4 linked regions of the Homo sapiens genome follow. The protein of the gene in region 4 purifies or fractionates together with the protein of the main gene of each other region. This does not show direct contact. Each region holds a gene or a part of one and is shown on either strand. Other genes may lie near its edges.

Region 1 (4,455 bases), on a different chromosome or scaffold from region 4:
GTGTTGATGATACAGTCTTCAGTTTCTTTCTAGTTGTAAATACATCTCACAGTTTTCAATGTAACCCCAAGAGGCAGAATTATTACTAAAGTTAAACTTTGCTTTGCTTTTTATAACAAAGGGCAAGAGACAAAAGGGCTTAAAGATGTGATATGGTTGGGATAGTTGTCCCTTCCAAGTCTCATGTTGAAAATTTGAAATTTGGAAGGGACAACTATCACTTGAAATTTGAAATCCCCACTGTTGGAGGTGGGGCATGGCAGGAGGTTTTGAGTGATGCAGATGGATCCCTCATGAATGGCTTGGCACCCTCCTCGAAGGAATAAGTGAGTTCTTGCTCTGAGTTGGGGTGAGATCAGCCCCTCCCCCTCACTCTCTCTTGCACCCTCTCTTGCCATGTGATATGCCAGCTCCCGCTTTGCCTTCCACTATGACTGAAAGCTTCCTGAGGCCTCACCAGAAGGTGAGCAGATGCTGGCACCATACTTACTGTACAGTCTGCAGAACTGTGAGCCAGTAAAATGTCTTTTCTTTATAAATACCAAGTCTCAGGTATTCCTTTATAGCAATGCAAAAACGGACTAATACAAGATGGTTATTTAATTATCTGAGAGGAAAGAAGACATGCAAGAACTTAAAGACATAAATTCAGAGAAAATAGAAGAGTTTGACTAGGTTTAGTCTCAAAATCAGAATGATGAAATACATGAATAAAGAATTAAGGCCGGGCGTGGTGGCTCACTTTGGGAGGCCGAGGCGGACGGATCACGAGGTCAGGAGATCGAGACCATGGTGAAACCCTGTCTCTACTAAAAAAAAAATACAAAAAAAATTAGCCGGGCGCGGTGGCGGGCGCCTGTAGTGCCAGCTACTCAGGAGGCTGAGGCAGGAGAATGGCATGAACCCAGGAGGCGGAGCTTGCAGTGAGCCAAGATCGCGCCACTGCACTCCAGCCTGGGCGACAGAGCAAGACTCCATCTCAAAAAAAGAAAAAAAAAAAAAAAGAATTAAGTGAGGATAAGTGAAAAGTCAGATCTTGCTCTATGTGCCTGCCAGTGAACAAAAGAGACCGTTTTTAGCAAAAGATGTCTAAATGTCTCCAAAGGGTTAGGTTTTACCTTATATTTAATTTGACCCAAATGGTTTACTTACAGTTACAGCCATCAGAAAACTATGGAAAAACCAAAAGACCTGTGATATTTCAGGATTAATAGAATTAGATGCTGTTACCTAGTAAGTCAACAAATGCTTACTGAACACCTACTATGAGCAGGCCACTTTTCTAGGTGCTGGGTATATAGCGTGAATACAATGAAATTCCTTCACTAGACTGTATGTTATTGTAGGGGGAAATCAAGATATATACGTATGTAAACTTATAAACAAACAAGATAAATGAATATAAGATAGGGTTAAGAACATATTTTTTACTGGACCTGCACAGAAAGAAGCATGAGAAAAAAACAGTACGGCTTGAAATGGGATGGGCAAGAGAGAGATGTTGCAGACTTTGTAAGAGCATAACGTTTATTTATTTATTTATTTATTTATTTATTTATTTATTTATTTATTTTTGAGATGGAGTCTCGTTCTGTTGCCAGGCTGGAGTGCAGTGGTGCGATCTCGGCTCACTGCAACCTTCGCCTCCCAGGTCGAAGTGATTCTCCTGCCTCAGCCTCCTGAGTAGCTGGGATTAATAGACACGTGTCACCACGCCTGGCTAATTTTTGTATTTTTAGTAGAGATGGGGTTTCACCATGTCGGTCAGGCTGGTCTCAAACTCCTGACCTCATGATCCACCCACCTCGGCCTCCCAAAGTGCTGGGGATTACAAGCATGAGCCACTGTGCCCAGGCTTTTTTTTTTTTTTTTCGAGACAAAGTCTGGCTCTATTGCCCAGGCTAGAGTGCAATGGCACGGTCTCTGCTCACTGCAACCTCCACCTCCCAGGTTCAAGTGATTCTCCTGCCTCAGCCTCCTGTAGCTGGGATTACAGGCATGTGCCACCATGCCCACCTAATTTTTGTATTTTTAGTAGAAACAGGGTTTCACCATGTTGGCTGGGCTGGGCTTGAACTCCTGACCTCAGGTGATCCACCCGCCTTGGCCTCCCAAAGTACTGGGATTACAGGTGTGAGCCACCATGCCCAGCCGTAAAGTCATAAGATTCTTTATTTTTATTTATTTATTTATTTATTTTTTTGAGATGGAGTTGCACTCTTGTCACCCAGGCTGGAGTGCAATGGCACGATCTCGGCTCACTGCAACCTCTGTCTTCCAAGTTCAAGTGATTTTCCTGCCTCAGCCTCTTGAGTAACTGGAATTACAGGCGCCTGCCACCACCCTTGGCTAATTGTTTTTTTGAGACACAGTCTTGCTCTGTCGTCCAGGCTGGAGTGCAATGGCGCGGTCTCGGCTCACTGCAACCTCTGCTTCCTGGGTTCTAGCAATTCTCTTGCCTCAGCCTCCCAAGTAGCTCGGATTATAGGTGCCCGCCACCACACCCAGCTAATTTTTGTATTTTTAGTAGAGACGGGGTTTCACCATGTTGGTCAAACTCCTGACCTCAAGTGATCCAACCAGCCTCGGCCTCCCAAAGCGCTGGGATTACAGGTGTGAGCCACTGTGCCTGGCCACCTGGATAATTTTTATATTTTTGGTGGAGACGGGGTTTCACCATGTTAGCCAGGCTGGTCTCTAACTCCCGACCTCAAATGGTCCTCCCACCTCGGCCTCCTAAAGTGCTGAGATTACAGGCGTGAGTCACTGTGCCTGTCCACAGCATAAGATTGTATAGTACAACATAGATCCACTTAAAAGAATGAGAACTAACTCCGATTTCTCTTTCCCAGTGCCTCACAATTTTATGTATAGCAAAACTGTCAAGAGGCTGTCCAAGTTACGAGAGTATCAACAGTATCATCCAAGCCTGACCTGCGTCATGGAAGGAAAGGACATAGAAGGTACAACTCTGCAATGGGCAACAAGACTTCCCTTGCTATTAATCAAATTCCTAGTCTGATGGTTTATATCTTCAGCACTAAAATTATCAACTGCAGCCTGGTTTTTCCTACTGCATTCTTTAACTATCTACTTGGTATCTTAAATAGACACCTCAGGCTGGGCCCAATGGCTCACACCTGTAATCCCAACACTTTGGGAGGCCGAGGTGGGTGGATTACCTGAGGGTCTGGAGTTTGAGACCAGCCTGACCAACATGCGGAGAAACCGCATCTCTACTAAAAATGCAAAAAAAGTCCGGGCGCGGTGGCTCAAGCCTGTAATCCCAGCGCTTTGGGAGGCCGAGGCGGGCGGATCACGAGGTCAGGAGATCGAGACCACGGTGAAACCCTGTCCCTACTAAAAATACAAAAAATTAGCTGGGTGCAGTGGCAGGCGCCTGTAGTCCCAGCTACTCGGGAGGCTGAGGCAGGAGAATGGTGTAAACCCAGAAGGTGGAGCTTGCAGTGAGCCGAGATCGCGCCACTGCACTCCAGCCTGGGTGACAGAGCGAGACTCCGTCTCAAAAAAAAAAATAGACACCTCAAAATTAAAGTATCAAACAGGGGTCCTCAGAACTGTCTCACTTCCTCCTGCTCCCATCAATATTAAAGCCTAAAACTCAAGAATCATTCTTAGCAGTTTTTTTCTCTTTTTTCTTTCTTTTCTTTTTTTTCTTTTTTGAGACGGAGTCTCACTCTGTCGCCCAGGCTGGAGTGCAGTGGCGCGATCTCGGCTCACTGCAACCTCTGCCTCCCAGGTTCAAGCAGTTCTCCTGCCTCGGCCTCCCAAGTAACTGGGACTACAGGCACACGCTGCCAGGCCCGGCTAATTTTTTTGTATTTTAGTAGAGACGGGGTTTCACCTTGTTGTCCAGGCTGGTCGTGAACTCCTGAGCTCAGGCAATCCTCCCGCATCGGCCTCCCAAAGTGCTGGGATTACAGGCGTGAGCCACCGTGCCTGGCCAGCAGTTTTTCTTTGCTTATCATCTTCACCCCTGCATCCAATTAATCACTAAGTTCAACAGTAAATATATCCCTCTCCCTATACAGTTCTGGATTAACTGAAAAATAAATATACACAGGATTCAGATAAGAATAAAATTATGCCTGGCATAGTGGCTCACATCTGTAATCCCAGTGCTTTGGGAGGCTGAGGAGGGGTAATCACCTAAGCACGGGAGCTTGAAACCAGCCTGGGAAACAAGATGGGACCTCAACTCTACAAAATACTTAAAAATAAATCACCCAAGCGCAGCACGGTGGCTCATGCCTGTAATCCCAGCACTTTGGGAGGCCGACGCGGGTGGATCACCTGGGGTCAGGAGTTCGACACCAGCCTAACCAACATGGAGAAACCCTGTCTCTATTAAAAATACAAAATTACCCGGGCGTGGTGTCGCATGCCTGTAATCCCAGCAACTCGGGAGGCTGAGGCAGGAGAATCACTTGAACC
Region 2 (4,455 bases), on a different chromosome or scaffold from region 4:
AAGAAAAAAAGGAAGGCTCTTCTTTAGAGAATACTGCTAGCTAATAAATGTAGAAGGAATGACAGATTTAGTAAAGCCAGAATTTTGTAATTCTCTAGCTAATATTTCAAGGATGATCAATGAATGCTAAAACTGGGTTCAAGATAATTGGAAAATAGGATATTCACATGGTCTCAAAATATTACTCCAGAAATTGCTTAAAAAAATGATAAAAGGAAAAATGTACCTTTTTATAAGGAAACATCTAGCAGTTACTTCCTTAGCGAAGTGATCAACTTGGTTTCCAAAAGTGAGACAAACTGATATTAACTGTTTCCTGACATGAAGATTATGTAGTACTTCTACCAAAAATGTTTAACTCAACCCAATCATGAGGAAGCAATCTGACAAATCCTGATTATGGATGGGACATCTTACAGCACAAGTGGACTGGGCTCTTAACATTTTTTAAGTGCTAAAGATAAGAACTGTTGAACCAGAGTTCTACATCCAGCAAAAATAACCTTTAAAAATCAAAGGGAAATCAACACATTCTCAAAAGGAAAGCTATGATAATTTTTCATCAGCAGACCTACCCTAAAAGAAAGGCTAAAGAAATTTCTCTAAACAGAAGTGACAAAATAAAGAATCTTGGTACTTCAGGAAGGAAGAATGAACACAGTAAGCAAAAGTATAGGTAAATGTAATAGACTTTCCTTTTCCTCTTAAGTTTTCTACATTATGTTTGATGATTGAAACAAAAATTATAGCATAGCCTGATGTGGTTTTAAAGAAAAAAGAGAGGTGGGGTGATTGTTCTAGATTTTAAAAAGATACCATAAACCAATGTAATATATCAGGAGGAAAGACAACTTATAAAAGACACTTTTGGTAGAACTGAGAAAATTTGAATATAAACCATATTTAAATTATTCTTCAATCATGTTAGTTTTCTTAGGTATGACAATGGAATTGTGGTTCTGTAGGAAAATTTATCCTTATAAGATTTGTACAAAAGAATTTAGGGGTGAAGTGTCATGACATCTGAAACTTTCAAATGATTCAGGTAAAAACAAAGTTGTTTGTGTGGTGAGTGTGGGTGTGTAGAAAGAGGAAGAGAAGGGCAAAGCAAATATAATGTTAACAAGATTACATCCAGGTGAAGGGCATATCAGCATTCATTATACCACTTTTTCAGCTTTTCTGTGGGTTTAAAATTTTTCAAAATAAAAGTTAAAAAAAACTACTAAGTGTGTTGTGTTTGTGTGTGTGTGGTGAGAGTGCATGCAAGTGTACGGATATGGTTTGGATCTGTCTCCCCACACAAATCTCATGTTGAATTGTAATCCCCAATGTTGAAGGTGGGGCCTAGTGGAAGGCAACTGGATCATGGGGACGGTTTCTCATAAACGGTTTAACACCATTCCCCTTGGTGCTGTTCTCGTGATAGTGAGTGAGTTATCACAAGACCTGGTTGTTTTAAAAGTGTGTAGCACCTTCCCCCTTTCTCTCTTGCTTGGGCTGGGCCATGTAAGACATGGCTACTTCTCCTTCACCTTCCACTGTGAATTTAAGTTTCCTGAGGCATTCGCAGAAGTGGAAGCTGCTCAGCTTCCTGTACAGCCCGCAGAACTGTGAGCCAATTAAACCTCTTTTTTAAATTAAATTATCCAGTCTCAGGTATTTCTTTATAGCAGTGTGAGAACAGACTAATACATGTACACACACACTCACTCCTAAGCATTCCAAAAGGATAGACTTTTGCTTTTCGGAAACCATCTAGCTAGAATCTTAAGTTGAAGACCAGGGTACCTGCCTAAGAATTTGAAGAAAATCAGAATGTTCCTGAGGAATCCTCACCTGCCATATTTACAGCTTGTGTAAAAATATCATCCTGGGCACTTCGGGTTCTGTTGTCCTCTTTGATGAACTCCAAGTATGGTACTGCCTCACTCAAGGTGGTGGGAGTTAGCAAGACATCTACTCCAGAGTTAAAAGCATTTACAAAGTCATTAGCAATGAGGCGTCTCACTTTCTGTGCTTTGACAAAATAATTTTCATAGTTTCTGTGGGAAAAAAGTAGGTGATGTTTTTAAGGATTTTTTGTATTTTTCTTTTAATCAATTATCTTACATTAGGCTTGATAAAGAACCATTGGATTTCCATTTTCTGGCTGAATAAAAAGTTTGGCTTGCCTGTGTAATGCCCATTCCCTTCCCCCTGGCTCCCCAGTGGTGGGGCGTATATGAGAGAGGAGTGTTTTTCTATCATAGACGCCATAGGGGAAAGTTTGGGGATGAAGCAGAGCTTAAAGGCATTTCAATTAAGTTAGAAAACTGAAACAGACTGTTGAGAAATCTTTGCCACTTTTCCCACCCCAAAACAGCCTGGGGCCTGACATCTTCTGCCCTGGGCCCCTTTCTCTTGATGTGGAAAGTCTGAATGCAGTATTTATAGACTTCTAAGGTTTTAAAATCCTGCATCAGGAAGAAAACCAGAAATACTGGTTGGTTAAATAAAGAGTTTAGGCATTGTTTAGGGAAAAAAAAAAAAAAAGAACCACTGGATTCTTGGCTTTTATGAGGAGGCACCATTAAGATTCTTAACATAAAAATGAATTCTCTTCCACTGTGTTGCCACTCTAAAAGTTTGTATATATAAATTAATCAATCCGAATTCAGAATTCACTAGTAGATGCAATTCTACACTTATAATCTCAAAATATTAATAACTCCAGGGCCATCATTAAACCAGAATATTCATTGGTGAGGAAAGTAAAGTACACAGCAACAAATGGCTTTCTAAAGGTTACTAAGATAGACAGCGGTAGACTATGCAGTATTTGAATTTTGTATTTTACGGATAGGTATAGCCCAGGGGTAGAAATGTGAAATTCAAGAATGCTTATTTTACTAAAAAGACTAAAGAAAAAGCCAGACATAGGAGTAACCATAAATCAATGATACAAAGAAAAGGAAAAAAAATCCTTTAGATTCTTCTGAAGCTGTTAGGAGAGGCTAGCAAGAACTGTTCTAGGCCGGGCGCAGTGGCTCACGCCTGTAATCCCAGCACTTTGGGAGGCCGAGGTGGGTGGATCACCTGCGGCTGAGAGTTTAAGACCAGCCTGACCAACATGGAGAAACCCCATCTCTACTAAAAATACCAAATTAGCCGGGCGTGGTGGCTCATGCCTGTAATCCCAGCTACTCAGGAGGCTGAGGCAGGAGCATTGCTTGAACCTGGGAGGCGGAGGTTGTAGTGAGCTGGGATCGCTCCATTGCACTCCAGCGTGGAGAGCTGGAAACAAGAGCGGAACTCCGTCTCAAAAAAAAAAAAAAAAAAAAAAAAAAAAAAAAAAAGAACTAACCATTCTTTTCCACAACAGTTTCCACAACAGTAAAAATGGATATACCTGCTCCAGTTTTACTGAGGGCCAAATAAAATACGATAAAAACGTGAAATATGTTTTACTCTAAAAGAGTGGTACAGAAATATCATAGGTCCTTACTCTTATTTGACCACCAGGTCTACAGAGAGACCAATGCAGGCATCACATATAATTTACACACTGACAACACCTAAGTGGTTTAAACACCATATTCCAAAACCTGAATTTTATAAAGAACAAATACTGGCTGGGCCTGGTGGCTCATGTTGTAATCTCAGCACTTTGGGAGGCCGAGGCGTCGGATCACAAGGTCAGGAGTTCGAGACCAGCTTGACCAACATGGTGAAATCCTGACTCTACTAAAAATACAAAAAAATTTAGCCGGGCATGGTGGTGGGCGCCTGTAGTCCCAGCTACTGGGGAGGCTGAGGCAGGAGGAGAATCTCTTGAACCCAGGAGGTGGAGGATGCAGTGAGCCAAGATCGCGCCACTGCACTCCAGCCTGGCGACAGAGCAAGACTCCGTCTCAAAAAAAAACAAAACAAAACAAAACAAATACTTGTTTTCTATTAAATTTCTTCCTACTTTAAATATGGCTCAGAAGAAGAACTGCTTCCATCCAAGATAGAGTAATGGAGATGGGATTTACCCTGTGCTATGGTTTGAATGCTTGTCCCCTCCAAAACTCATGCTGAAATTTAACTGCCACTGAAACAGTATTAAGAGATGGGGCCTTTAAGAGGTGATTGGGCCATAACAACTCCACTCTTGAGTGGGATTGGTGCCATTCTAAGAGGGAAAGTTCAGCCCCCCATGTGCTTTCCCTTTCTCTCCCTCTTTTTCTCCCCACCCTTGCTTTCTGCCATGTGTGGACATAGCAAGAAGGCCCTCACCAGGTGCTGGCTTCTCAATGTTGGACCTCCCACCCAGCCTCCAGAACTGTGAGCCAGTAAATCTCCGTTCATTATAAATCACCCAGTCTCAGGCATTCTGTTATAGCAGCAAAAATGAACTAAGACTGCTTCTCAGAATAGGGGATTAAAAAAAAAAAAAGAACTAAGACACTCTGCCTTCTTAAACAACTAGAA
Region 3 (4,455 bases), on a different chromosome or scaffold from region 4:
CCCAGCAGCCATCCTTCAACCACTCATGGACTGCTGAGTGTTCTAACTGTGTTCAAATAAGACAATTGCAAATCTGTAACCAATCCAGCCACTGTGTACCTCACTTCCGATTTGTCACTTCCCTTCATTTGTCTATAAATTTGTTATGACCACAAGGCATCCCTGGAGTCTCTCCAAATCTGCTGTGGTTCTGGGGGCTGCCCAATTTGCTGCTCAATTAAACTCCTTTAAATTTAATTCAGATGAAGTTTTCCTTTTACCATAGCTTTAGCACTGGTCCACTTTCTAGACCCATTTCTGACCAGCTTCTAAGACACTTTCAGTTGTAAGTTTTATTAATACCTAAAACGTGTCTAAAACAGAATTACCTTTCTTCTGTCACCCTAAATTACTTTTTCTCCAGATGTCCCAATCTTTGCCTATCACTAAGCTATTTCATTTAGAAAATGTGTAGTCCATCTAATTCCTCCATTTCAAGATAATTCCCACATCTTCTCAAGTCTTCTTTTATTAACATGTCTTCCTTTCTGATCATCGGTGCTATCACCCTCATTGAGGGCCTTGTTACTCTAAAAGTGGACTTGTGAAATGGTCTAAGTGGGATGTGGCTTCAGAGTCTCACGTGATGAGTTCCTTTTGTGAGCTGCTGACTGTTTTATCTTGTAAACTCCTTTGCAAACAGCACCTTAAAATCTCAATGGCTGCTATTGAAATCTTTCAACAAAAATCTTTGAAACTGTAGATCAATTTCTATAGCCAACAAACTGAGTATGGCAAATAGTTTTAGAGAGAAAGTTCCCTACCAGGTTATAAGGAGAAAGGCCACCTTTCCCCTCCTTCATGGAGTACACTGTTACACAGGTCTACATCCGTGGTTCTCAGTCCAGTAATTTTGCCCCCACGGGACATTTGGCCATGGATGGAGACATTTTGGGTTGTCATAGCTCAGGCAAGCTATTGGCCTCTTATGAGTAGAGGCCAGGGATACTGCTTAGCATCCTACAAAACACAGAAAACCTGGTCTAGCCCTTACAGAGAATGAGTCAAGATAATGTGGGCCTTCTTAGACAAGGTGGCATGAGGAACAACAACAACAAAAACGACAATGTAGGCCCAAGACAGGGCAAGTGTGTGAGGATCCCGAGAGAAAGGAGAAAGACTCTTTGATGGTTGCCAGGGAGAGTGTCTTTATGGTTACTTAGTCTTCCTAGCACCAGAGAGAGATCAACGGAAGACAAAGATATATTTGCATGTGCAAAGTAACTGCCATTTCTGTGTTGAGTAGTAAACATTATAAATTCTTGTGTTTTGGTAAATAAAAGGGCTCTTCTCCAGGACTGTGGGCAACCCTGTCTGGGCAACACCCATGTAGGAACTGGCAGAAGAAATCCAGGCTTGCTTCACTCTGTGATTCTTTCTAGCTTCCTAGATTGGAGAAGCCAAAACTGCTTGGCAGCTATCAGCTCCTCACTGCTTTGAGATCAAGGATAAACTTAACCCTTAGGCAGTTACCATCTGAACCCATTCCACCCTTCTGCAAAACTGTTACATCACCTATAGTGGCATATTATTTCTTAAACAAGCTGAGCATATTCCTACCTCTACACCTTTGCGTGCACATTTCCTTGCCCTGGAATCCGCACCCCTCTGCTGCTTTACCTAAAACTGCTCCTTTGAATGGTCACTTGAAGCCCCATCTCCTATAAGCATATCTGCCCATATTATTTATTTAGCATTAGCAACATGCTATCTTCTACTGTTCTAAAATTCATTTTTAAAACAGATACCCTACCTCCCCAATTAAAAATGTAATTTTTTTTGATGTCAAGAACCCTGTTGTAAACCTACAGATCCCCAAAACTTACCTGTGTACTTTGCGTAAGGCAATGATACCCTAAAACATCCTATCAAAGTTATTGGTAATGTGTTCTGCCTACATTAATAGCTAGTGTTGTCCAGGCACAGTGGCTCATGCCTGCAATCCCAGCACTTTGGGAGGCCAAGGCGGGAGGATCACTTGAGTCCAGGATTTTGAAGCTTCAGTGAGCCATGATCTGTATCACTGCACTCCAGCCTGGGTGACAGAACAAGATCCTGTCTCTAAAAAACTAACTTAATTAATTAATTTTAAAAATAGCTAATGTTTACTGATTATTTATAATGAGTCAGCTGCTCTAAGTACTTAAGAACATTTATTATGAGTCAGCTGTTCCAAGTTCTCAGGTTAAGAGATGTGTCATTCCAAAGAGAAAGGCAAGAGGGTGAGAGAAGGTGAGAGTGAGAAATGAGGGGAGAGAAAGAGAGAGCAAGAGAAGGCCAAAGTTGTCCTTTAATGAGGAACTCATTCTCTCAAAAACAGCATTAATAATTTACGAGGCCAGTTCCCCTATTTAGAGGTGACAGCATGCTGGCAGCCCTCGCTTGCTCTCGGTGCCTCGCCTCCTCGGCCTCGGCGCCCATTCTGGCCACGCTTGAGGAGCCCTTCAGCCCACCGCTGCACCGTGGGAGCCCTTCTCTAGGCTGGCCAAGGCTGGAGCCAGCTCCCTCGGCTTGCGGGGAGGTGTGGAGGGAGAGGCATGGGCGGGAACCAGGGCTGCGTGGCGCTTGTGGGCCAGCTAGAGTTCCGGGTGGGCGTGGGCTTGGCAGGCCCTGCACTCGGAGCGGCCGGCAGGCCCTGCGGCCCCGGGCAGTGAGGGGCTTAGCACCCAGGCCAGCAGCTGTGGAGGGTGCGCCGGGTCCCCCAGCAGTGCTGGCCCACCGGCGCCGCGCTCGATTTCTAGCCAGGCCTTAGCTGCCTCTCCGCGGGGCAGGCCCCGGGACCTGCAGCCCACCATGCCTGAGTCTCCCCGCCACCGCCAGTGGGCTCCTGCACGGCCTGAGCCTCCCCGACGAGCGCCACCCCCTGCTCCACTGCACCCAGTCCCATCAACCGCCCAAGGGCTGAGGAGTGCAGGCACGAGGCGCGAGACTGGCAGGCAGCTCCACCTGCGGCACTGGTGCAAGATCCACTGGGTGAGGCCAGCTGGGCTCCTGAGTCTAGTGGGGACTTGGAGAACCTTTGTGTCTAGCTAAGGGATTGTGAGTGCACCAATCAGCACTCAGTGTCTAGCTCAAGGTTTGTGAACACACCAATCAGCACCCTGTGTCTAGCTCAGGGTTTGTGGATGCACCAATCGGTACTCTGTATCTAGCTAATCTGGTGGTGACTTGAAGAATCTTTATGTCTAGCTAAGGGATTGTAAATACACCAATCAGCACTCTGTATCAAGCTCAGGGTTTGTGGATGCACCAATCGGTACTCTGTATCTAGCTAATCTGGTGGGGACTTGAAGAATCTTTATGTCTAGCTAAGTGATTGTAAATACACCAATCAGCACTCTGTATCAAGCTCAAGGTTTGTAAATGCACCAATCCGCACTCTGTGTCTAGTTCAGGGTTTGTAAATACACCAATCAGCACTCTGTATCTAGCTAATCTAGTGGGGAGGTGGAGAACTTTTGTGTCTAGCTCAGGGATTGTAAATGCACCAATCAGCACCCTGTCAAAACAGACCAATCCAATCAGCTGTCTGTAAAACAGACCAATCAGGCTGCCGAGCCAGCAGTGGCAATCCAATCGGGTCCCCTTCCACACTGTGGAAGCTTTGTTCTTTAGCTCTTTGCAATAAATCTTGCCGCTGCTCAATCTTTGAGTCCACACTGCCTTTATGAGCTGTAACACTCACCGCGAAGGTCTGCAGCTTCACTCCTGAAGCCAGCGAGGCCACAAGCCCACCGGGAGGAGCGAACAACTCCAGATGTGCCGCCTTAAGAGCTGTAACACTCACCGTGAAGGTCTGCAGCTTCACTCCTGAGCCGGTGACACCACAAACCCACCAGAAGGAAGAAACTCCGAACACATCCGAACATCAGAAGGAACAAACTCCAGACACACCGCCTTTAAGAACTGTAGCACTCACCGCGAGGGTCCGTGGCTTCATTCTTGAAGTCAGTGAGACCAAGAACCCACCAATTCTGGACACACTATGACCCAAACACTTCCCATTAGGCCCCACCACTCAAAACCTCCGCACTGGGGATCAAGCTTCCAACACATGAATTTTGGGGGACACATTCAAACCATTTGTGTTCTCTCTACCTGGATGCCAAATATATGTCCAGAAAAAATACTTCTGGTTTTGTTGAAGAGCAAAAAGTTAAACAACAAGAATTATATGTATTTTGGCAGCTGCTGTCTGGCAGATGTCCAGAGAATTAACTGAACAAGAATTCACGTCAAGGATATTTGTCAAGAATCACCTCTTGGCTGGGTGCAATGGCTCATGCCTGTAATCCCAGCATTTTGGAGGGTGAGGTGGGAGGATCGCTTGAGGCCAGGAGTTCCAGACCAGCCTGGCCAACACAGTGAGACCTCATCTCTACAAAACACTTTAAAAATTAGCCAGGTGCAGTGACA
Region 4 (4,854 bases):
TCAGCAGCTTGCTTTCTGGGAACCTTTTATCTGCCTTACTCCCCTTTAAACACCTGCGGCATCGTCACATGGCTTGTGATTACCGTTTTATCTCCCTTGCTCCCCTTTAAAACACCTGCGGCATTGTCACTTGGCTTGTGATTACCATTTCGTCTTTAAAGCAGGTTTGTTAACAGTTTTAACACTCGGAGTATTTAAAGCCAGCCAGGTGTGGGCGTGCCTGCACCCAGATGTGGAGGTTTATTTTAAGGCTGTGCCCCAAGGGGACCCAGTTTGGGGGTGGCTGTGCCCGCCCTGGTCCTAGCATAGCCCTGGCCCAGAGCACTGCTCCCACACCCTCGGGCCTCGGAGCTCGGCTGTGTTCATCTACAGGGATCTGTCACCTGTCCCTCCAGGAAAGCTCCTTACGCCTTTGCTCTCCTGAGAATAAAACTTGCTCTGAATCCTCCTCCAAACTTCTCGCCCCTTGGGTCTCAGCTGTTGGCTTTTTGCGACCCCTCCTTGTGGCCTCATGCAGTTGGGTAGCAGCAGCCCCGTCTGTGAGCCTGCTGGGGACAGGCTTCTGTGCCATGTCCTCTCCCAGGCTAGGGGTCCACCCGCCCTCTGAGGGTGTGTGGCTGGGCCCCCGCTCACCAAAAGTCACGTGCATTTGGTGGCAGTGTCCAAGCCTTCTCTCAAGATGGTCAACCCTGCCCCATGCGGGGTCCACGTGTGCCTCAGCATTGAGAGGGTCTGTTCCAGGGATCTGTGTGGGGGTCGCAGGGCACAGCCGCTCCAGCCTCCTGTGCCAAGCCCCTGGGAGCAGGTGTGGGAGCTCCGGGCCAGCCCTGGCACGGGCACCTCCCAGGATGTTCGTAAGACACACGCTTCCTGCCCGCGCATCTTGCCCTGTGGCCTCAGGACAGCCGGTCCGAGGGAGGGCAGGTGCAGCAGCCACGTCCCAGTCGCTGCGGCCTGGCTTCTCCAGGTGCAGCTCGCCCTCCTTGCACCTGCAGCGCGGAAGGCAGAGCCAAAAGGCGCCCCCTGGGCTCCCGGAGCTCTGAGCCACTTCAGGAGTTCGGGCATGTGGGGTTTTGTCTCCGGTTTTAGTCTGGCCATGTTTGTTGGTTCCAATTCCTATGCTCTGTTACCTGAACCTGTTTGATTCTTTTGATTTTCTTCTTTCTGAAAAAGACTTTTCACGGTTTCCTATTCTGCCTTTCTTCCGTATGCCTCTCAACGGGACGAGCAGCTGAAATTAAAAAGATAGTAGCAGGTACGAACCCAAAGGAGTGTGCTGAAGTCAAGAGCCTGTCTGGCGGGCCACAGACCTGAGCGCAGCCCCTCGGTGGCACACCTGCCCCAGGGACAGCCCTGCATGGGGACACGTGTCAGGCCCCAGACCTGCGCACGCACCCAGGCTCAGCCACAGCCCCTCAGGCAGGGTCCCGATGCCCACTCTGCTCCCTTGTGTTACAAATGCCGTGGTCCTTCTCAGCCCTGCTGTGGCCTTGCCTGTCATCAGAGGGCAGCTGGTCTCTGCAAGCGTCTGAGTGCAGGCTGCTTAGGGCACCAGCCAAGGGGGGACGCTGCCTGCACTGCTGCCTCATGGGCCACCTTGACAGATCTGCATGGGTCTCAACAGGTGGGTGGCTTCGTGCCTTCTGCAGCCCAGTCCCCGTGGTCTTGGTGGGCTCTGGCTGTAGGAACAGCCTGTCTCCTCCACGGTGCTTCACATGTGTCCCACGTGGCTTCTGGCTGGACGTGGCATGGCTCCTTCCCCCCTCCCCCTCTTTTTTCCTCCTCTTCCTCTTCCTTCCTCCCTCCTCTTCCCTCCTCCCTCCTTCTCCCTCCTCTTCTCTCCTCCCTCCTCTTCCCTCCTCCCTCCTCTTCCCTCCCTCCTTCTCCCTCCCTCCTTCTCCCTCCTCTTCCCTCCCTCCTTCATCCTCCTCTTCCCTCCCTCCTGCTCCTCTTCCCTCCCTCCTCCTCCTCTTCCCTCCTTCCTCCTCTTCCCTCCTTCCTCCTCTTCCCTCCTTCCTCCTCTTCCCTCCTTCCTCCTCTTCCCTCCTTCCTCCTCCTCCCTCCTCCTCTTCCCCCACCTTCCTTCTCCCTCCTCCTCTTTCTCCCTCCCTCCTCCCCCTCCCCCTCCTCCCTTCTGTCTCCTCTTTCCTCCTCTTCCCAGCACCAGGCCCAGGGCTAGTCCTTTGAGGAGCAAGTGAGGCCATGGTGCCTGCTCTTTCGGAACCCTGCCCTGGAGTATGGGGAGGTGTCACCAGCACATGGGATCTCGTCCTTGTACCATTGACATTCCGTGGTTGAGCCCCGCAGCACCCAGGGCGAGCACGTGGCCCACGGCCGAGGTGGCTGGTCTGCCACCTGCACTTCCTCCTGTGAAAGGAGGTGTGCGGGAGACCTGCTCTGCCCGTCATGGCCTTTCCCTGCAGGCAGGCGTCTGGCCCGGGGTGCTAGCAGGGAGCAGGGGCTGCTGCTTGAGGGCCGGCCCCATGGCCCTGATCTCCTTGGAGCCAGCCCTGTCCCCCACATCCAGGGGTCTGGGCGAGGCCCAGGGCTGCGTTCCTGGGAGAATGCTGACCCTGCACTTCTCTGGCTGGTCATGGTGTCACCACTGGGGAGGCTGGGCCGGCACGTCAGTCTATGCCTGGCATGCAGGGCCGTCCCTGAGATATTTGCTCTCACCACTCACAAAACATCCTTCTCGCTCCTGGATTGAACTTTTATGCCTCACAGCCCTAACCCATCATTTTTCAAAGCTTCCTATAATAATTTGAAAACATCTTGTAAAAATGACATAAGTCACAGCCGCTTGCGGCAAATAACTGGCCAGTGTTGAAGCGAGTCAGACCGGGTGCTCCTGCACCAAGTGTGTGCCAGCCGTAACCCGGGCAGGCCTGTCCTCTGGCCCTTGCTGCAGGCACCAGCTCTTAACACGGGGTGCACTGGGGCTCCCCATCACGCAGGACCTGCCCAGAATTTCCACAGTGGATGGTGTTCAGGAGCGGTGGTTAGGATGGCTGGCGGGGGCCTCACTGACGCTCCAGCTCCCATGCTCCCCTTAGAAGACAGCTTTTGGCCGGGTGCGGTGGCTCATGCCTGTAATCCCAGCACTTTGCGAGGCTGAGGTGTGCGAATCACGAGGTCAGGAGATCAAGACCATCCTGGCTAACACGGTGAAACCCCATCTCTACTAAAAATACAAAACATTAGCCGGGCGCGGTGGCGGGCGTCTGTAGTCCCAGCTACTCGGGAGGCTGAGGCAGAAGAATGGCGTGAACCCGGGAGGCGGAGCTTGCAGTGAGCTGAGATCGCGCCACTGCACTCCAGCCTGGGTGACAGAGTGAGACTCCCGTCTCAAAAAAAAAAAAAAAAAAAAAAAAGACAGCTTTTGTTTGTTTTTAAAATTCTCATCTCGGAGGAAACTTTCTAGAAGTACCAATATTCTTTTCAAAACATAGCTTACAGTTTTTCTTTTCTTTTTTTCTTTTTTGAGACAGGGTCTTGCTCTGTTGCCCAGGCTGGAGTGCAGTGGTGTGATCACGGCTCACTGCAGCCTCGACCTCCTGGGCTCAAATGATCCTCTGGCCTCTGCCCCCCGAGTAGCTGGGAGTACAGACGCCTCTCACCATACCCTGATCATTTTTATTTTTTTGTTTTTTTTGTTTTTGTGGAGATGGGGGTCTTGCTATGTTTCCCAGGCTGGTCTCTAACTCCTGGGCTCAAGCGATCTGCCTGCCTCCGCCTCCCAAATTGCTGGGATTACAGGCGTGAGCCGCCGTGCCCAGGCTTATTTTCTTACGTGCTTGTCCTAGAACAACTGAATGTGTAAAGTGGAAAAAACAAAAACAAAACCCCACCCAGCCCAGATAACCATCTCTGACATTCTGGCACATTCCTTTTGACTGTTGCTCTGGACACTCACTTCCATGGGCAACGAGCAGGCTTGCTGGGGTCCTGCCGGGTGCGCCTGGGGCACAGCCAGTGGGAGAACTGATGCGGCACAGTGGCTGGCTGTGCGGGAGAGGCCATCCCGGGTGGGCTTCCAGGGGCAGTCAGGGCGCAGCCTCTCCCGGGCCCTCAGGCCTGCGTGCATCACTGAGCTGTCCGGGCTTCACGGTCACAGTCATGATGGGTGTCACCAGTGGCCAGTGTTCGGGCACACTCCCTGCAGGTGACCTGTGCGTTGCCTTGCTGTGGGCCGCGCCGTCCCTGGCCCAGCACGGTGCATGAGCAGCCCGGGCACTCTGACTGTGTGCTTTCCAAACCCAGAAGCTGGCAGGGCGGAGATGCTGGACCACGCCGTCCTGCTTCAGGTGATCAAAGAACAGCAGGTGCAGCAAAAGCGCTTGCTGGACCAGCAGGAGAAGCTGCTGGCGGTGATCGAGGAGCAGCACAAGGAGATCCACCAGCAGAGGCAGGAGGACGAGGAGGATAAACCCAGGCAGGGTAGGCCGGGCTGGCGGATGGAGTGGGGTGGGGCCAGGCAGGGGGTCTCCTGCTGTCCTCATGCGGCTGGGTCTGAGGCTCGGTGGCCTCTAGACCTGAGCGTGAGTCTGGTTTTGGTTCCCAATGCTGTTGTTGCTGGTTCTTCTGAGCCCCTCCACTGGCAGCCTGTGTACAGTGCTGTGGCTAAATTGATGACCGACTTCATTTGCAGTGGAGGTGCATCAAGAGCCCGGGGCAGCGGTGCCCAGAGGCCAGGAGGCCCCTGAAGGCAAGGCCAGGGAGACGGTGGAGAATCTGCCTCCCCTGCCTTTGGACCCTGTCCTCAGAGCTCCTGGGGGCCGCCCTGCTCCATCCCAGGACCTTAACCAGCGCTCCCTGGAGCACTCTGAGGGGCCTGTGGGCAGAGACCCTGCT

The links. The genes of interacting proteins can lie anywhere in the genome.
Region 1: the proteins of SLC38A10 (region 4) and CLEC4C purify together in Homo sapiens (co-immunoprecipitation; one large-scale study listed by IntAct). This does not show direct contact.
Region 2: the proteins of SLC38A10 (region 4) and QRSL1 purify together in Homo sapiens (co-immunoprecipitation; one large-scale study listed by IntAct). This does not show direct contact.
Region 3: the proteins of SLC38A10 (region 4) and ACADSB purify together in Homo sapiens (affinity purification with mass spectrometry; one large-scale study listed by BioGRID and IntAct). This does not show direct contact.

What each region holds. Positions count from the first base shown.
Region 1 is NC_000012.12:7,739,929-7,744,383, reverse strand, and holds part of CLEC4C (C-type lectin domain family 4 member C), read left to right. Parts: intron 1-2,852; coding exon 2,853-2,963; intron 2,964-4,455. UniProt on the Homo sapiens protein: Lectin-type cell surface receptor which may play a role in antigen capturing by dendritic cells. Specifically recognizes non-sialylated galactose-terminated biantennary glycans containing the trisaccharide epitope Gal(beta1-3/4)GlcNAc(beta1-2)Man.
Region 2 is NC_000006.12:106,660,570-106,665,024, reverse strand, and holds part of QRSL1 (glutamyl-tRNA(Gln) amidotransferase subunit A, mitochondrial), read right to left. Parts: intron 2,046-4,455; coding exon 1,840-2,045; intron 1-1,839. UniProt on the Homo sapiens protein: Allows the formation of correctly charged Gln-tRNA(Gln) through the transamidation of misacylated Glu-tRNA(Gln) in the mitochondria. The reaction takes place in the presence of glutamine and ATP through an activated gamma-phospho-Glu-tRNA(Gln).
Region 3 is NC_000010.11:123,011,998-123,016,452, reverse strand, and holds part of ACADSB (short/branched chain specific acyl-CoA dehydrogenase, mitochondrial isoform 1 precursor), read right to left. Parts: intron 1-4,455. UniProt on the Homo sapiens protein: Short and branched chain specific acyl-CoA dehydrogenase that catalyzes the removal of one hydrogen from C-2 and C-3 of the fatty acyl-CoA thioester, resulting in the formation of trans-2-enoyl-CoA.
Region 4 is NC_000017.11:81,246,471-81,251,324, reverse strand, and holds part of SLC38A10 (solute carrier family 38 member 10), read left to right. Parts: coding exon of another isoform or gene 1-110; exon of another isoform or gene 111-455; intron 456-1,231; coding exon of another isoform or gene 1,232-1,255; intron 1,256-4,263; coding exon 4,264-4,440; intron 4,441-4,651; coding exon 4,652-4,854. UniProt on the Homo sapiens protein: Facilitates bidirectional transport of amino acids. May act as a glutamate sensor that regulates glutamate-glutamine cycle and mTOR signaling in the brain. The transport mechanism remains to be elucidated.